4 separate regions of the Homo sapiens genome follow, and regions 2, 3 and 4 are each linked to region 1. Evidence: fine-mapped expression QTL. A gene starts in region 1. Each other region holds a variant in brackets. All regions are shown on one strand. Distances are from middle to middle.

The links. PIP is the estimated chance that this variant, and not a neighbour inherited with it, causes the effect.
Region 2: its variant is fine-mapped to the expression of ZGRF1 in tibial nerve (GTEx, PIP above 0.99). The same link has a PIP of 0.9 or more in esophagus muscle, gastroesophageal junction, sun-exposed skin and whole blood.
Region 3: its variant is fine-mapped to the expression of ZGRF1 in prefrontal cortex (CommonMind, PIP 0.95).
Region 4: its variant is fine-mapped to the expression of ZGRF1 in testis (GTEx, PIP 0.94).

What each region holds. Positions count from the first base shown.
Region 1 is chr4:112,634,174-112,639,186 of GRCh38, forward strand. ZGRF1 (zinc finger GRF-type containing 1) reads right to left here and starts at 2,736. Exons shown (of 28, transcript NM_018392.5): 1 at 2,678-2,736. LARP7 (La ribonucleoprotein 7, transcriptional regulator) reads left to right here and starts at 2,970. Exons shown (of 13, transcript NM_016648.4): 1 at 2,970-3,066. RefSeq lists enhancers at 2,533-2,752, 3,323-3,372, 3,413-3,522.
Region 2 is chr4:112,559,228-112,564,240 of GRCh38, forward strand. ZGRF1 (zinc finger GRF-type containing 1) reads right to left here. Exons shown (of 28, transcript NM_018392.5): 17 at 3,904-4,047; 18 at 3,144-3,258; 19 at 1,506-1,768. Among named protein-coding and RNA genes, the nearest start is that of NEUROG2, 46 kb to the left of the region's middle. The variant ATAGT/A (reference allele first, on the strand shown) is at 2,045.
Region 3 is chr4:112,579,603-112,584,615 of GRCh38, forward strand. It overlaps ZGRF1 (zinc finger GRF-type containing 1), which reads right to left. Exons shown (of 28, transcript NM_018392.5): 15 at 4,376-4,572; 16 at 2,061-2,200. Among named protein-coding and RNA genes, the nearest start is that of ZGRF1, 55 kb to the right of the region's middle. The variant CT/C (reference allele first, on the strand shown) is at 2,686.
Region 4 is chr4:112,595,116-112,600,128 of GRCh38, forward strand. The region is part of intron 10 of ZGRF1 (zinc finger GRF-type containing 1); the gene reads right to left. Among named protein-coding and RNA genes, the nearest start is that of ZGRF1, 39 kb to the right of the region's middle. The variant T/TG (reference allele first, on the strand shown) is at 2,978.

The sequences.
Region 1 (5,013 bases):
GAAACTCTATCCTCCATCTGAAGGAATTTCAGTATGGCGGGGTGATAAACAGTAATTTTAATAAAATAAGGCAGGAATAAGCACAGCAGGGGCACCCAGCTTGGTGTGGATCATCAAACAAGGCTTCTTCAAGGAAGTAAAGTCTAAGCTGTAAGCTGAAATAACCCTTAGTCAAGGGAAGGCCAGTGAAGGTCTTCCCAAACAAGAATTGCAGGCCTGTGATCCCAGCACTTTGGGAGGCCGAGACAGGTGGATCACCTGAGGTCAGGAGTTCGAGACCAGCCTGGCCAACATGGTGAAACCCCTGTCTCTACTAAAAATACAAAAATTAGCCAGGTGTGGTGGTGCGTGCCTATAATCCCAGCTACTTGGGAGGCTGAGGCAGGAGAATCACTTGAACCCAGGAGGCAGAGGCTGCAGTGAGCCGAGATCACGCCACTGCACTCCAGCCTGGGCGACAAGAGCAAAACTGTCTCAAAAAAAAAAAATAAAAGGGCGAGGCGGGGGCGGTGAAGTGCAAGAAAGTGACTGGCATCTTCCCTTGACTAATCAAGGTGATCTGGAGAAAGAATAGGTAAGGGGTATGCAAATGAGATATGCATACTTGCTTCGTGACACAGGTCACAGGACAGAAACCAAACCTACAGAAGGACTGCCTTTCAGAAATATAACTCCTGGCCGGGTGTGGTGACTCACGCCTGTAATCCCAGCACTCTGGGAGGCCATGGCGGGTGGATCATGAGGTCAGGCGCTCGAGACCAGCCTGACCAACATGGTGAAACCCCGTCTCTACTAAAAATACAAAAATTAGCTGGGCATGGTGGCACAGGCCTGTAGTCCCAGCTACTCAGGAGGCTGAGGCAGGAGAATTGCTTGAACCCGGGAGGCGGAGGTTGCAGTGAGCAGAGATCACGCCACTGCACTCCAGCCTGGGCGACAGAGCGAGACTCCATCTCAAAAAAAAAAAAAAAAAAGAAATACAACTTCCACATCCTATCTCCCTCCCCTCCGGCGTACATAAATTGCTGATGCCTAAGAATGCCAAGAAGATAAAAGAGAGATCGAGAAAAACACTCCTGGGCTAGATATGCTGTATACATAGATGAGAATACATGGTACAGACACAGTGCTGGGCATGTGGCAATTATTAATATCAGATCTGTTTAATAGCTACCATTTATTCAGTGCTACCATATGCTAGAAACTGTTAAATGCTTTATTTGGAGGTTTTGTTTCTGTTGGCTTTTTAACTTTTCTTTTTCTTTTACAGAGACAGGGTCTCACTCTGTCACCTAGGCTGGAGTGCAGTGTTGCAATCATAGCTCGCTGTGGCCTCAAACTCCTGGGCTCAAGCAATCCTTCCAGCCTCCCAAAGTGCTATATTATAAACATTATATACATTATATTGTTAATTATATACATTATAATTATTATGTAATTATATAATATATAACTATATTACTGTATTATGTAATATACAATTATATGATTATCGTGTGTAATTATATATATTTATTGATTACATACTATGTATCAGGCAGGAATTGGACGAGATACTTTACATACAGTATTTATCAGTCTCATAATCCTGAAGAATAAGCATTATTACAATTTACAGATTAGGAACCCAGTATTTACTAGTTTAGGATAACTTATATGCTATTTCACAATTGCAAGATAAATTCTCCATTATTTTCCTAAATTGAGATATTACTTCTGGAATGTACAGTTTAAAAAGAACTAAGAAGACTGAAACTCTTAAAGGATGGTTAAATTCGATTATAGGAGAAAACCTAAAAAAAAAAAGCTAACTGGATCTTTTAAAATTTAGAAGAGCTCTAATACTTATTCATTGAAAGTCAACACCCTTTCTTATCTTAGTATTAATCAGAAAAAATTATTTTAGACAACAGCATCATATATATTTAAGTGAGATGCAAAGAGTTTTTTCCAAGTGTTCATCTGTCCACGTCTACCAGACAATTCACCTGTTGACCGACTTCTAATAGGTGAAAGATTAATCTCCAAATAAGTTTTTAAAGACCCCAGATGCTCTGTGATAATTATATACATACATACATACACACAGATATACGTACATACACACATATACATACATATACATTGTGCTACTATATGTACGGACGCAATATATATACATAAAACTCGGTGTTCTCAGTAAAGTATGAGCCATTATTCATTTAAATACTAGATATTTTTCCTTTTTTTTTAAACAAGGAGTATTTTTTGAACCTAAACCTGAACCTCTAAATAGTTCGGATAACAAAGTTTTGGAATCATGAACTCAACATTGTTAACAAACCATCCAGTCCAAATAAACAAAGGAAACCCACATCTCATTTGCCAAGATTCTAAGAACCATAATCCTGTCACCAAATGACAATGGAGACTTGATCCTTTCTCAGTCCTAAATACAAACAGCAAAGCCCTCTTTGGTCCTCATACCTACTCGAAATTGCAAAGCAAGGCCTGGGAAAAACGGTGAAGAGGCACCACTTACTACAAGCAGTCCGAGTAGCTGTGACTGCGACCACCCCAATCCTGGTTCCAAACAGCATCCTTCCCGGTTCTCTTCTTAAGGAGCAGAGTCTTTCGTCCCTTCGCCCCAAATCGCTCAAGTCATTCCTAGGAAATCCCGAGAAACACTTCACCTCACCTGTCAAATTGCACAAAATCCACTTTCGAATTTCTCCCGCGAAACAACGTGACGTCATTAACGCGGGACCTCACCAGATGAGGACCCAAAACTTGGCCCGCCCACCTCCGCCTAAGCCAAAAACCGCCGCTTTCAAATCGCCAATCAAATTCTTCCTTGGCTTCGAGTCTCTCAGCCGGCCGCGCTCTCCGATGCCCAGCCCTCCTGGAACCACCTCGCCTGTGACGTAGGTGGAGCGCGCACTGCCTCCGGGCCCGTCTTTCTCAATTGGGACCGGAAAACGTTGTCGCTCATCCTATGACGCGAAAGTAACCGAGACTATCAGGATCCGGAGACGGAAATGTCCGAAGGCCGCAGTACTTGACCCTGTATTTTGGGAGTCGAACGGAGTAAGTTACAAGCGGCCTATAGGGTCGCACAGCTTGGGCGAAGTCTAATTAACTCTCCGTCCTTTTTCTTGCGGTCCACTCTATCATCTATCGTCCTTCTTACCCCGCCCCCCCGTCCTGCACACCCATCAGTTCCTTGGCCTAGTTATCTATGCGCACGCGCAAAAGTCTTCGGCAGCACTTGTAGTTCCCGTTTTCAGACAGTAAGGGCGCATAGGGGCCCGGCGTGGGGAGGTTTGGGGCGCGCCCGGCCTATGACGGCGTCCTTGCGGAAGTACGGGTGCCGAGAGAAGCAGTAGTCAATAAAGAGAGTGCCGTATTTCGCAGATTGGAGCTGAGCTGTGGCTGCCAGAAGATAGCGAACGTGAGGATTTATATTCTAAAATTATCATCTTCTTTTGCAGGACTCTGCCATCGTCCTCAAAGAGTAAAAAATCCAGTTACGGAAGGGAACTAACACTTGCTAGATATGGTGTGCAGAGTGCGTTTGCAAAGAAACTTAAGAGAAAACAAATGATAGGACACAGGGTGGTGGAAGATCTCAAAGAGTAAGATGCCATTTAACCTGGGCCTTGAAAATTTAATAAGGAAATTTAGACGAGAAGATTCAGACAAAGCAGAACACACAGGCCACTACGTGTTGAGGGACTTGAGTTGTAAGCAGTGACCAGAACAATGATTCTTAACCTGTTGTGGCACACTTCTTTTGAAAACTTAATTATATGGATTAGCTTCTCAGGAAAACGTGCATGTACCTATTAAAACATTTTGCGAGGCTGGGCACGGTGGCTCACGCCTGTAATCCCAGCACTTTGGGAGGCCGACGCGGGAGGATCACTTGAGGTCAGGAGTTCGAGACCAGCCTGGCCAATATGGCAAAATCTCGTCTCTACTAAAAACACAAAAATTAGCGGGGAGTGGTGGTGCACACCTGTAGTCCCAGCTACTCAAGAGGCTTGGTTGGGAGAATCGCTTGAACTCGGGAAGCAGAGATTACAGTGAGCCGGGATCGCGCCACTGCACTGCAGCCTGGGCCACTGAGAGAGGCTGCGTCTCCAAACAAACATTTTTCATATAATTTCCTCAGGAGAAATTACGAAATACTTTTAAATAGCAAACACACACAAATGACTTGGTGTCTTGTCTGACTCACTCTTCCAAGTTATCTATGTCTTTCGTGGTCTTTGAACTATTTTTCAACCCTGTAACTCGCTACAGCAACATGGAAATTAGGTTTGTCCAGTAAAGATGCAATTAATTATTGTCCTGAGCAGTATTTATTAATATTCATTTCAACGTTCCTGATTGCCTGTGTACCTGCTTTTTAAATTCTCCTTTGAACTGGTTTTTAGCACTTAACTGGTTCCCTTATTTACAGTCAAGCACCACATACCGACAGACCGCATGTATGACAGTGGTCCCATAAGATTATAGGTGAGTAATAGGCAATAGTACCTAGGTTTGTGTGAATACATCATAGAATAACTACATACTCAATGATGTACTTACTCACCTGACTGTGCATTTCTCAGAATGTGTCCTTGTCGTTAAGCAACCCATGACTGTGCTTAAATCTTTACCGTGTATTCATTTTATATTTGTACAAGAGTCTTGATTTTACCTTATCTTTAAAATGTATCATTTACAATTTAATGGAGCCCACTAGAATTCTTGTCCAGCCAAAGTTGCATGGACTTCAGATTAAGAATTCCTGAGTCAGAACATAGAGTCCGTGGTGATAAATTGCGGGAAATTCTACCAAAAGGTAGACAATGTGGGATCAAACATACCTGGGACAACTTACTTAGCTAGCTTTGGCCAAGTCACTTAAACCTTTTTGAGTTTTTGTGTTAAGATGGAAGAAACTGCTACCTAGTGGGATTGTGAGGATTTACAAAAGTGTATATAAAGTTACTGGTATTGTTACCCAATAACTTTTATTCTTCA
Region 2 (5,013 bases), 75 kb before region 1:
TGGCTCTGTTGCCCAGGCTGGAGTGCAGTGGCGCAATCGTGACTCACTGCAACCTCTGCCTCCCAGGCTCAAGCCATCCTCCCACCACAACCTCCAAAGTAGCTGGGACTACAGGTGCATGCCTCCATGTCCAGCTAATTTTTAAATTTTTTTGTAGAGACAGCATTTTGCCATGTTGCCCAGGCTGACCTTGAACTCCTGAGCTTAAGCGAGCTACCCTCCCTGACCTCCCAAAGTGCTGGGATTACAGGTGTGAGGCCAAGCAATGGGTTTGACTTAATCAGATTGTGTTTTTAAAAAACAACTTGAATGAAAATATGAAGTAAGGCAAAACTAGTGGTAGATCAATTAGAAAGTTGTGTGAGATAATTACAACAATAAATGTTAACTTTACTAAGCACCTCCCATGTGCCAAGCACTGTTCTAAGCCCTTTATGTATGTTAACTCATTTAATCCTCCAACCCTATGAGGTGAATGCTATTATGATCTCCATTTTGCAGAGTAGGAAATTAAAGATTAAGAGATATATAACCTGCCCAAAATCATACAGCTAACAAATGATACAGTCAGAACGTAAATTCAGGATTCTAACTCTAGACCCCACACTCTTACCCACTAGGCTATATGGAGGTATGATGAAGGCTTGGATTGAGGGGATACAAGTAAACTGGAGAAGAGACACTCAATATGAAAGATGGATAGAAGCTAGAAGGAACACATCTCAGTGACTAATCTGATGGCGGGAGATGAATAGTGAGAGAATATGAGGAGGATTAAGAGAGAGTCACTTAATCTTGAGAGAAAGAAAAATCTACGATCACTCTCAGATTTGATTTGGTCAACAGGGTGGATATGACATAATTCCTCAAAATAGGACAGAAAAGTAGGATTAGCTTTGGGGTGGAGGTCTATGAGAGAAAATGTGCTACAGAGGCAACAGAGTCCAGATAGAACTATTTACTGTAAGCAGGAGGAAGTAAATCGCCTTCACTGTGACAGAACCAAGCGGTAAGAATAGCTCCAAAATTAGGTAAATTGGAGAAGGAAGGCAGGATATTGAAAGCAGTTTCTGTTATGACCTCCATTTCCTCTTTTAGAGGCAAGATCAAGAGAAAGGACAAGAATGAGGTTATGAGAAGAATTAAGGTTTGTAATCACTGATATAAAGGATAGAAGAGTGAGCTGACTAGGAATAAATAAAAGGTTTTGCTGATCAAGTTAAGTTTACTATAGGAGAGCAACATGTAAACATCTAGATCAATCTGGATACTTTGACCATAAGTTTATAATGCTACTCATTCATCAGATATGCTAATAAGTCTCCCTTTTAGGGTAGTCAGTTCTGTTCTCATCTAACAGTTTACCAAAGTGGGTACAGGTTTAAAAAGTCTACTTAGAGTTATTCTTGAACCTCATTTGACTAGGAAATTATAAAGGAGCAGACTGAGTTACAAAAGCTTACAAATAGAAAACAATTACAATTATTTTCTTTCTTGCTTCTTACCATGTATGATTGTGATAGGGAAGGTATGAGTTTGCAGTTCCTTCACTTCTTCAATGCTTTCATGTGATGCCATCATTTGAGCTATTTGAATTAGAGCTGTAGCTTGATCCTTGTTTAACTTGTGTACCTGAATCAACTCACTAGCTAACTTCAATGTTGCTCCTAGGCTGAGTAGTTCAAATTTTGTACTGACATTTGTGAAGGCTGGTGGGATAAATTTTCTCTTACTGACTCTTTTGTTACTAACTATAGTTGGCGAAGACCTAATAAAAATGAAGCAAATAAACAATTTTAAAAAAAGGGGCATTTGAAAAAGATGAGTAGAATAATTCATAACTTAGCCATCACTTTGTAAGCATTACAGAGAACAGTTTTTTATGGAAATAAACAGTAAGTGGATATATACTGTAAATGGATACATACTCCAATATCGAGGAGGGTAGAAGAGAACTGACGTTTGTTGAATACTTACTACATGCTGACACTTTGTTGAGCATTTTACATATTACTTGATGAAATCTTCACAACAACACTAGGAA[ATAGT/A]TAGTTAATTATCCCAAGTACAGATACAAGAATATTGAATTTTTTCCCCCAATACCACACCACAAATAAGTGGCGGACTGACTTTAAAACCCATGCTCTATTATACAAACCTAACTTAGATAATTAATCTAGCCCTCATTTCAGGTAAAACTACATCACATGAATTGGTCTTATTTCTATTTCCATGAAAATTCATTTCAAATTGGATAAATAACATAATGAAATCAAAGGATATTTATTTTTTTACCTAGGACTTCATTGTAGTGAGAAAAATAAAACATCACAGGTAGATAATAATATTCCAAATTGAAAACTGGATTTTCCTATCAATTTTAATGCATTTAATATAATATCACTTCCAATTTTTTAAAAAGGGACATGGTGCTTGAGAAATTCAAAATGAGATATGGCTATATCGAGAATAAAATCAGTAGCAATATACACACTGGATTCCAGCTGTAAAATGATTCCTTTAAATGTTAAATAATTTGTAATATAAAAATACAGATAATAAAAAATAAAATCAATACTGAAATGATCCTTAAATTATCTCTTGATGAAGTGAAAATGTACAGTAACATTTATTAGCTCAAACCTTAATAAACAGATGAAAAATAATGCATAATTCCTTTTCTCTTTTTTTTTTTTTTTTTTTTTGAGATAGAGTTTCACTTGTTGCCCAGGCTGGGGTGCAATGGCACCCGGCTCACCGCAACCTCCGCCTCCCAGGTTCAAGCAATTCTCCTGCCTCAGCCTCCCGAATAGCTGTGATTACAGGCATGCGCCAGTATGCCCAGCTAATTTTGTATTTTTAGTAGAGACAGGGTTTCTCCATGTTGGTCAGGCTGGTCTCGAACTCCCGACCTCTGGTGATCTGCCCACCTCGGCCTCCCAAAGTGCTGGGATTACAGGCATGAGCCACTGCACCCAGCCCCTTTTCTCTTTTTAACCACTGACAGAGAATAATGTCATAGTCTGAAAAATAATTACAATTTTATTGGCAACATTTATATACTGTACTTTTATTGAATTTTCATATTTACTTCTGATTACCATTTTTTAATACCAATGACTCAAAGGTAAAAAATGACTTACGTTGTTAACAGGTACTGTGTTAGAGGTAGAGTAGCTGGATTAAAGTAGTCCTGAATGTTTTTCAAAGTAGTCAGTTCTGTGCTAGCATTACAAACCAATAACGCATGGACAACCACTGTACAGAGGATGCAGAAAATAAACATTTGATGTAAATAAAATGGACCATAAAAACTCTGTGTTAAATGCCCACATAACTCAGAGTTCAGCTACTGAATTAAGCACATGACATAAAACAAACCCTTAAACACACACAGAGATCCCAAACTTATATTCATTAAATTACTATGCTATCTGCTCATTCATTTTATAATGGGTATGCATAAACTGCATAATTTAAATCATATTTGGACTTCCATATATCAGCAAATGAACAAGAACACCTGTTTTGAGTTAGTACCTAGTAGCACAACTTCACAGCCAGCAGTTTCCTTTAATCAACATATCACTTGTGCCACAGAGTAGTATTTGTATAATTTTTAAACACTTTCTTGCATTTTTTCCTCAATTACTTCACAGAAATATATGGAAAACAGAAAATCAGAATAATCTAATTAGAAAATTAGAACAAAACAATCCCCCACACACCATTCTTCCTCACAGAAATATCTATATATTCAACTTCATACACATTTTCAGGAACTCACTGTACACAACAGTCGAAACTAGAGTTGGGTCCTTTTTGTTGGCTTTAATCAAACAGTGCATCTTATGTCTATCATTCTTTTTAAATATAAACTAAAATGAGCATAGTAATACTCACTGTTAGTGGGCCAATTAGAAGGGAAATAGCCTTTCAAAGGCAGTATTTCTATCTCATTGATAGATGATGGTCCAAAGAAAGCACTACATGCGATAAAAGTATCCAGCTCAAAGTCTAGGGTTTTTGAAACCACCCAAAGATCATCTGAAAAGACAAACATTTTTAAATATTACACAGACATATACAGTATGGTTTTATATTTTTAGAAATTATATATATTTGCATATGTGTGTACATATATCTATAGTACACATATACATACACAAGATGAGAAGTAAAGTTCTGGAAAGATAATTCATCAACTATCAACCTAAAGGTTGGGAGTGCTCTGAACAAAAGAACCAGCATCAGATTCTGCAATTAATACAGTACCACTTGAATCACACAGAAAAAGACTAAAGAGATGGCAGAATTACAGGGTGAGGAAGAAGGAGGGCAGAGACATCACATGGGAAGATGAGTTTGCTACAATGGAAATCCCTAGGTTTTGCATAAACCCACAGAAGGCCTAAGAAGGCAGGACATGGGCTAGCCCATAAGACTATTTTATTAGTCCGTTCAGGCTGCCATAACAAAATATCTTAAATGAGTAATTTATTAAGATGATTAATATCTTAAATGAGAAATGTATTTCTCATAGCAGTTCTGGAAGCTAAAAAGCCCAAGATCAAGGTGCCAGCACAGCACCAGTGAATAACCAGTGAAGGCTCATTCTCACTTTGCAGATGGTGCAAAGGGGCCAAGGCACTCCCTTTAACCTCTCTTATAAGGCCACTAATCCCATGCAGGATTAAGTTATGCAGCGCCCACATGACTTAATCATTGCCCAAAGGCCCCAGCTCTTAATACACTGGCAATCAAATTTCAAAGTATGTATTTGGCAGTGGGAACGGACGGCAGGGAACACATTTAGACCACAGTAACCACTTAACAAGCTACAAAAAAAAGTAATATTGGACTCAGTTCAGGCTGAGAAAACCAACTGCCAGGGCATCAGCAATTGGAATAGTGCCAAAGATCAGATCAGTAAGGATATTAGCAGTTCTAGCAAGCTGAGAAATAATCACAAAATAGTAATATACTATTCCATTTTCACTAACAAGCTTCTTT
Region 3 (5,013 bases), 55 kb before region 1:
TCATAAGCATTCTTATACACCAATAACAGACAAACAGAGAGCCAAATCATGAGTGAACTCCCATTCACAATTGCTTCAAAGAGAATAAAATACCTAGGAATCCAACTTACAAGGGACGTGAAGGACCTCTTCAAGGAGAACTACAAACCACTGCTCAATGAAATAAAAGAGGATACAAACAAATGGAAGAACATTCCAAGCTCATGGGTAGGAAGAATCAATATTGTGAAAACGGCCATACTGCCCAAGGTAATTTACAGATTCAATGCCATCCCCATCAAGCTACCAATGACTTTCTTCACAGAATTGGAAAAAACTACTTTGAAGTTCACATGGAACCAAAAAAGAGCCCACATTGCTAAGTCGATCCTAAGCCAAAAGAACAAAGCTGGAGGCATCACGCTACCTGACTTCAAACTATACTACAAACTATACTACAGTAACCAAAACAGCATGGTACTGGTACCAAAACAGAGATATAGACCAATGGAACAGAACAGAGCCCTCAGAAATAATGCCGCATACCTACAACTATCTGATCTTTGACAAACCTGACAAAAACAAGCAAATGGGAAAGGATTCCCTATTTAACAAATGTTGCTGGGAAAACTGGCTAGCCATATGTAGAAAGCTGAAACTGGATCCCTTCCTTACACCTTATACAAAAATTAATTCAAAATGGATTAAAGACTTAAATGTTAGACCTAAAACCATAAAAACCCTAGAAGAAAACCTAGGCAATACCATTCAGGACATAGGCATGGGCAAGGACTTCATGTCTAAAACACGAAAAGCAATGGCAACAAAAGACAAAATTGACAAATGGGATCTAATTAAACTAAAGAGCTTCTGCACAGCAAAAGAAACTACCATCAGAGTGAACAGGCAACCTACAGAATGGGAGAAAATTTTTGCAATCTACTCATCTGACAAAGGGCTAATATCTAGAATCTACAATGAACTCAAACAAATTTACAAGAAAAAAACAAACAACCCCATCAAAAAGTGGGCAAAGGATATGAAAAGACACTTCTCAAAAGAAGACATTTATGCAGCCAAAAGACACATGAAAAAATGCTCATCATCACTGGCCATCAGAGAACTGCAAATCAAAACCACAATGAGATACCATCTCACACCAGTAAGAATGGCGATCACTAAAAAGTCAGGAAACAACAGGTGCTGGAGAGGATGTGGAGAAATAGGAACACTTTTACACTGTTGGTGGGACTGTAAACTAGTTCAACCATTGTGGAAGTCAGTGTGGTGATTCCTCAGGGATCTAGAACTAGAAATACCATTTGACCCAGCCATCCCATTACTGGGTATATACCCAAAGGATTATAAAACATGCTGCTATAAAGACACATGCACATGTATGTTTATTGCAGCACTATTCACAATAGCAAAAACTTGGAACCAACCCAAATGTCCATCAGTGATAGACTGGATTAAGAAAATGTGGCACATATACACCACGGAGTACTATGCAGCCATAAAAAAGGATGAGTTCATGTCCTCTGTAGGGACATGGATGAAGCTGGAAACCATCATTCTCAGCAAACTATCGCAAGGACAAAAAACCAAACACCGCATGTTCTCACTCATAGGTGGGAACTGAACAATGAGAACACATGGACACAGGAAGGGGAACATCACACACTGGGGCCTGTTGTGGGGTGGGGGGAGGGGGGAGGGATAGCATTAGGAGATATACCTAATGTTAAATGATGAGTTAATGGGTGCAGCACACCAACATGGCACATGTATACACATGTAACAAACCTACACGTTGTGCACATGTACCCTAAAACTTAAAGTATAATAAAAATAAAAATAAAAATAAATAAAAAAATAAAAATAAAAAGCCCTAATATCTTAAAAATATGTTTTTTAGAAGTGGTCTAATTTATTATACAATTAGTTTATAATACATATTACTATTAAATTATACTTTTAAAATTTAATATAAAATTCTTTAATATAAACAATTTATACAGCTGTATGTAATGGAGATAATAAGGCTAGACTGAATCGCCAGTATGATCAGATCAACTTACTTTTGCTATAAGCTGAAGATCTTTCCTTCCGACTTAGCTTAAGATAAAGTTTGGTTTTTGGTTCATTATAAAACTCAGGATTTACAGTAGTAAACTTCTTTAGTTTGCCATACTGTTTTCTCTGAAAATCAAATCCTTTTCTGAAAAGGGAATAAAAAATAAAAATGAATTGTAATATTAAGATGCAAGTTTTTTGAAAATCTTTAAAATACAGTATGAAAAGAACCAGGGTTTCATATGTTTACCTAGTTTCATACATGTATACAAAATATAAATATACTGTATCAAAGTAAGAAAATAACAACTGTCACAGAACTGTCATCAGTTTTAGAAGAGACTGAGATAGAAAAGTATCTAAAAGATAGAACACCTCGTGTGCTTTTTAAAATTTTTAAATTTAATTTTGTTTATTGGTATATAATAGTTACACATATTTTGGGAGTACATGTGATATCCTGATACCTTTACACATTGTGTAATGATCAGATCAAATCAGGGAAACTGGGATATTCATCACTTCAAACACTGATCTTTTCTTTGTGTTGGGAACATTACAATTCTTCTCTTCTAGTTATTCTGATATATACAATAAATTATTGTTAACTATAATTTCCCTACTGTATTC[CT/C]TTTTTTTTTTTTTTTAACACTTTAACCAACCTCTCTTCATTTCCCACCCCCTTTTCTTCCCAGCCTCTGGTAACCATCATTCTATTCTCTTACTTCCATGAGATCTGCTTTTTTAGCTCCACACATGAGTAAGAACATGCAATATTTGTCTTTCTATATCTGGCTTTTTCCTTTTTTTTTGAGACAGAGTCTGGCTTTGTTGCCCAGGCTGGAAGTGCAGTGGCATGACCTTGGCTCACTGCAACCTCCACCTCCTTGGGCTCAAGCCATCCTCCCGTCTCAGCCTCCCAAGTAGCTGGGACTACAGGTGCAGGCCACCACACCTGGCTAATTTTTGTAGAGACGAGGTTTCATGAGACGACGTTTCATCATGTTGCCCAGGCTGGTCTGGTACTCCTGTGTTCAAGTGATTCACCCACCTTAGCCTCCCAAAGTTCTGGGATTACAGGCGTGAGATCATGCCTGGCCTTTGGTTTATTTCACTTAACATAATGACCTCCAGTTGCTGCAAATGACAAGATTTCATTCTTTTTTATGGCTGAGTAAGATCCCATTGTGTGTGTGTGTTTACATACCACATTTTCTTTATCCATTCATCCATTGATGGACACTTAGGTTGATTCCATATCTTGGCTATTGTGAATACTGCTGAAATAAACATGAAAGTGCAGGTATCTCTTTGATATACTTATTTCCTTTCTTTTGGATACATACCCAAGAATGGGATTGCTGGATCATATGATAGTTCTATTTTTATTTTTTTGCGGAACCTCATTTTCTAAACTATAAAACGGGAATAACTTATTCCGATATCTCCATCTTACGGGCTATTATAATAATTGCATAAAATAATTCATGCGAAGTGCCTAGTTAGAAGAGGGCCTGGCATATATCAGCTCCGAATAAAAATCTTACTACTAAATCACCATGCAAATAGTCATTATATTTATTTTGAATAATCTAAACTTTTATAAGACATACTTCCAAAAAGTAGCATTCTATTACCCTATAAGCTATGTAGTTCAGACATGCAAATGATCACTTATTTATTATGCCACACTGCTAAAAATTATTCCTATAGTTTGTCGGATAGGGTTTCCCTTAGGATTGTGGAAAATAGCCCCGACTATATACAAAATAAGTTAGAAAAATAGCACCCTGCTAGTTATCCTGATATTGCTGACATTGTTTGATGTTTAGAGGGAGCCGAAATAACTTTAAAGACTTATTCCCTGGCCGAGCATGATAGCTCACACCTCTAATTCCAGCACTTTGGGAGGGTGAGATGGGAGGATCATTTGAGTCCAGGAGTTTGAAACTAGCCTGGGCAACATAGCAAGACCCCAACTCTACAAAAATTTCAAATTAGCTGGGCATGGTGGCATGTGCCTGAAGTCCTAGCTACTCAGGAGGCTGAGGTGGGTGGAGAGCTTCAGCCCAGGAGTTGAAGGTTGCAGTGAGCTAAGGATCACACCACTGCACTCCAGCCTGGGCAACAGAGCAAGAGCTTGTAACTATATAATTAAAAAAAAAAAGACTTATTCCCATTTTGCAGGTTTAGAAACTGAGGTATTCCATCTTTTAAATAGTTTTCCTATCTTAATCTCTTTTAAAACTGATGATAGTTCTGTGAAGGCTGTTGTTCTCTTATATAATCACAGGCAATTATTTGGTACTATAAAACATACCTCACCAAAAGCTGGCATTCCTCATAAAGTGGTATCTTTTGACTTCTTAAATATAAGCCAATACTCTTAATATCACTTAAAACCATGCCAGGTCGAGCTCCTTCCTGTGTTGAATATCCTGGAGTCACGTCCTCAAGCCATTTAAAGAATTTACATCGATCAGCTTTGGGTCCATCACATGTATAAAAGAGACGACCCTAAGGGGAAAGAAAAAAGATCAACATTTAGTGAAAAAAATGCTTTTATTTTTCGATTATTTTTGTGTTTGTCAAGGCTTCTATGAAGACTGCTTGGCATTACTGTACTCCAGTAAATTAGTCACTATATGACTTAACTTTATCATTAATTTAAAATTTAAAACCACCTACTTTTCCATTTACTTTCTCTTTATCAAAAGATTACATTATTCTGAGAATAAAAGCTTATTTGAAAATTTGTTTTTCTGATTTAAAATGTTCACTATAAACAACCTGAAAACTGTCCAGAAACACTGAATATCTTATCCATTTATTTCTATCCTTTTTTCTCATTCGCGTAAGTACACACACACCACAACCCAAAAAGAACAAACACATGTAAATTTTTTTTACACAAAACTCAGATGATACATTTTCTACTCTGTAACCTAGCCCTTGTAC
Region 4 (5,013 bases), 39 kb before region 1:
ATTTTAATGTCTTTGAAATAGGGAAACACTTTAAAAGTGATGACATTTTTACATCTCTATAGCACAGGCAACAGTTGTGACATAGTTGTCATTGCCTGTACATGTGCAAATGTATGCAAATTAGTCATGCTGTTCATCTTAATAATCACTTAAATATGAATTGGTCTGTGCATTGCTAATATCAAACACGTTCTAAGTAATTTTGCTGTTTAAATGTCTTCAAAAGATTATACTATGATTTAGCCCTGAACAAAAAATTATTATGTTCAAAGAAAGGCAAGAGAACAAAGCAGTGTAATATACAATTAAAAACTGTGCCCAACACAGCATAGTGGCTCACGTCTATAAACCCTGCACTTTGGAAGGCGAAGGCAAAAGGATCGCTTGAGGATAGGAGACCAGCCTGGGCAACATAGTGAGAGCCAGTCTCTACAAAACATAAATATATATGTTTGTGTGTATATATGTGTGTGTGTGTGTGTATTTATATATATATCAAAATATATGTATGCCCAAATAAGCTTAAAAGCATTCTTTCAATAAATATAACATTAGAAGTCTAAGTGAAGATTAAAAAATTCTGGAGATCCATTTCAAAACAACGTAAGTATACTTAACACTACTGAACTGGTTGAAATAGTAAATTTTATGATATATGGTTTTCACCACAATAAATATTTTATAATGTTTTTAAAGTCTAGGATAAAAAACATTGTGTAATGTCTAAATGACTACTCTTCTTTCTTAGTGCTGTATAACAAACTGGTGCTTTTTACAGTAGTAGTATCTCAGAATTTGATAAAAATACAGAATTTCTTGTAAGTCCAGAGATTGCTACATGCAAGCAATGTCACGCTTATTCAAAAAAGCACTTATCTGTTTGTAGATCTAATCATTTTGTTTTAGAACATTTTTGTAAACTCAGAATATAAAGCATATAATCATAACTGATGTAGATAACAATAACTAGAAATAAAAATAATGGACATAAGTTTCTTTTTCAATATGGAATACCTCTAAATTTTGTTCTCCTCTCAAAATATACAGAGGATGAGAAACAGAAACTCCATCTTTGATGAAACTAAGAAGCAATGGCAATCCTGAATTACAATACAATATTAAGAAGATGGGGAATAGTATAGACTTGGCAATATCAAGAAAATCTAACCAAAGCACCTAGTAAAGGAAAGCCCAATAAGAAGTAAACTGATTTGCCCCAATAACCATGGAAGGGCTCAGAAACTGAAGGCCACAGGTGTTGCTGAAAGTAGGATACAATGGACTAAAATATTTGATAGAAGATTCGAGAAAGAAAATCTAGAAAACACTGGGGGGAAAAGCAACAAAGAAATATATTTTTTAAAAAGTTTCATAAGACAAGTAGATTTGTATTTACAGGATGAAAAGACCCACTGAGTACAGTGTATTAATGAAACCTGAAGGAAAGCACATGACAGCGAAATTTCAGAATATCAGGATTTTTTTTTTTGTTGTTGGAAACTGGGTCTCACTCTGTTGCCCAAGCTGGAGGGCACTGGCACAATCTCAGCTCATTGCAACCTCTACCTCCCAGGCTCAAGGGATTCTCCTGCCTTAGCCTCCCAAGTAGCTGGGATTACAGGCACATGCCACCACGCCTGGCTAATTTTTAATTTTGTGTAGAGACAGGGTTTTGCCCCGTTGCCCAGGATGGTCTCGAACTCCTGAGCTCAGGTGATCTGCCCACCTCGACCTCCCCAAGTGCTGGGATTATCTAGCACTTTGGGAGGCCACTGTGCATGGCCAGGAATTTTTTTAAAGTCATTAAAAGTTTCTGTGCCGGGCACAGCAGTTCATGCCTGTAATCCTAGCACTTTGGGAGGCTGAGACAGGCGGATCACTTAAGGTCAGAAGTTTGAGGCCATTCTGGTCAACATAGTGAAACCCTGTCTCCATTAAAAATACAAAAATTAGCCAGGTGTGGTGGTGCACGCCTGTAGTCCCAGCTTCTTGGGAGGCTGAGGCAGAATAATCACTTGAACCCAAGAGGCGGAGGTTGCAGTGAGCCGAGATCACACCACTGCACTCCAGCCTGGGTGACAGAGCCAAACTCCATCTAAAAAAAAAAAAAAAAAAAATTCTAGAGGGAGGGTCAGGCACTGTGCTCACACCTATAATCCCAGCACTTTGGGAGGCTGAGGCAGCAGGAACACTTGAGGGCAGGAGTTTGAGACCCAGAAAACATAGGAAGACCCCATCTCTAGAAAAAGTTTTTAAAAATTAGCCAGGTGTGGTGGTGTGCATCTGTAATCCCAGCTACCCAGGAGGCTGAGGCAGGAGGTTGGCTTGGGCCCAGGAGTTTGAGGCTACAGTGAGTTATAATTGTGCCACTGCACTCCAGCCTAAGGAAGAGAGTGAGACCTTGTCTCTAATAATAATAATAATAGTAATAGTAATAATAATTCTAGAGAGAGAAGGCACTGCTAAATTTAAATTACAAAGAAGTGGGCACAGTGGTTCACTCCTGTAATCCCAGCACTTTTGGAGGCTGAGGTGAGTGGATCATTTGAGGTCAGGAGTTCAAGACCAGCCTGGCCAAGATGGAGAAACCCTGTCTCTACTAAAAATACCAAAAAAAAATTAGCTGGACGTGGTGGTGCGTGCCTGTGGCCCCAGCTACTCGGGAGGCTGAGGCAGGAGAATCGCTTAAGCCTGGGAGACAGAGGTTGCAGTGAGCCGAGATCGTGCCACTTCACTCCGGCCTGGGTGACAGAGCCAGACTGTCTCAAAATGTACCCACACACACACACACTGAAAAAAAAAAAAAAAAGAATAAAGCAGATCATATCCAAATTCTACACTAAGTCAAACTATCAATCAAGTATGAAAGCAAAAAAAACCATTTTCAACATGCAAAGTCTCCCAAATTTTATCTCCCCTTGCTCCCTTTCTTTGGAGGTATTCAAAGATGTACTCCAGCATAACAAGAAAGGAGACA[T/TG]GGTGTTCAAGATGTAAGCAACTCATGCTAGGAAGGCAGCAATGGGCATTCTTAAGTTGTCAATTATACAGTGCATACTGAAGCAGGCAGATGAAAAACCTGGAAAAGATGCCATAGGAAAATAATGGAACTGACACAGATTATATGAAAAGTATGTGTGAATTCCTGTATTAAGGAGTATTTTATACAGCTTTTTGAGGGTATGGAAAAACTTTGCCCCAGTATTCAAAAAACACTAAGCAAATTTTAAAAAGAGACAATTATAAACCGGAAAAACCCAAAGTTATAAAGGGAAGAAAATGTAATCATAGTATACCAATTGGCTCAGCAGTGAAAATATTAAAACATTTATAATAACGAAAACATTGAATATATATTTATCTTAAAGTTATAATATAACTTAATATTATAGGTGCCTGGAAGAATATAAAGGAGGGATTCAGAAACAACTAATTTTACTGTAGCCACTGTAATCATTAGCTCTTGCTAAAGACAGTGCAAAATCACAATAGTTATTAAAAGCATCAAGGTGCTTTTATTAATTAATAATAAAATAATGTTTTTATTAATTAAAAACATTAAGTGAAAAAGAGTTCTGAGCTCCAGAAATCACAAAAAACACTGACAAATCTTATTACATAAATTAAAACATTTAATTTTAGAAAAATCATAATCAGGCCAGTCACGGTGTCAGATGCCTAGAATCCCAACACTTTGGGGGGTCAAGGCAGGTGTATCGGTTGAGCCCAGGAGTTCAAGACCAGCCTGGGCAACATGGTAAAACCCTATCTCTATAAAAAATTTAAAAATTAGCGAGGTTTGGTGGTGTGTACCTGTAGTCCCAGCTACTCAGGAGGCTAAGGTGGGGGAATCACTTGAGCCTGGGAGACAGAGGTTGCAGTGAGCCAATATCATGCCACTGCACTCCAGCTTGGGCAACAGAGTGAGGCTCCTTCTCAAAAACAAAAAAATCAGAGTCAAAGCACTAATGTAGTGGAAAAAAATGACAAAGGGTTAATTTTCTTAGTATGTAAAGAGCGAAGAGCTCCTACAAATCAAATATACAAATAATATATAGAGAACCTCTATACCAAAACTGTAAAACATTACTGGAAGATATTGCAGCAGATTGAAATAGAGGGAAATATTTTTATAATATTGAAAATTTATCAATAACATATTATAAAAATGTTAATTCTGCCCAAAATTGACATGCACAATGGAATTTCATCCAAATTCCCAGCTTGTATGTGTGAAAACCATTAAGCTAGTTCTAAACATATATGCAAATGTAAAAAAATGAGAAGAATGAGGTGGGAAGATTTAAAGATACATAGGAAGTACATAGGCCAGCCACTGTGGCTCACGCCTACAGTCCCAGCACTTTGGAAGACCAAGGTGAGAGGACTGCTTGAGTCAGGAGTTTGAGACCAGCCTGGCAATATAGCAAGACCCTGTGTCTAAAAAAAAAAAAAAAAAATTAGCCAGGCATGGTGGTGTGTGCCTACAGTCTCAGCTACTTGGGAGGCTGTGGAGGGAGGATCACTTGAGCCCAGGAGTTTGAAGCTGCAATGAGCCTGTATAATGCCACTGCACTTCAGCCTGGGTGACACAGTGAGATTCTGTTTAAAAAAAAAGGAAGAAAGAAAGAAAACACATGCTTTGTGACTTCTGAAATTGCAGACCAATAAATCAGAAGAGAAACTAATAAGAGACCCTTAATATATGGACCCTTGATTCATGGCAAAGGAATGAAGAAAAGATAGCTTTTTCAATAAATGGTGCTGGGTCAACTGAATATTCATATGGAGAAAACATGTAACTTTACATAAAATGTACTCAATACATAAAAATCAATTACAGGTAAACTGTAGATCAAAATGTGAAATGTAAATTAATAAAGCTTGTACAAGATAATATGAGAGAATATCTTCATGATCTTGAGGTAATGTTTTTTTTTCTTTGATACAGGATCTCACTCTGTCACCCAGTGTGGTGGCATGATCATGGCTCAAGGCAGCCTCAATCTCCCAGGC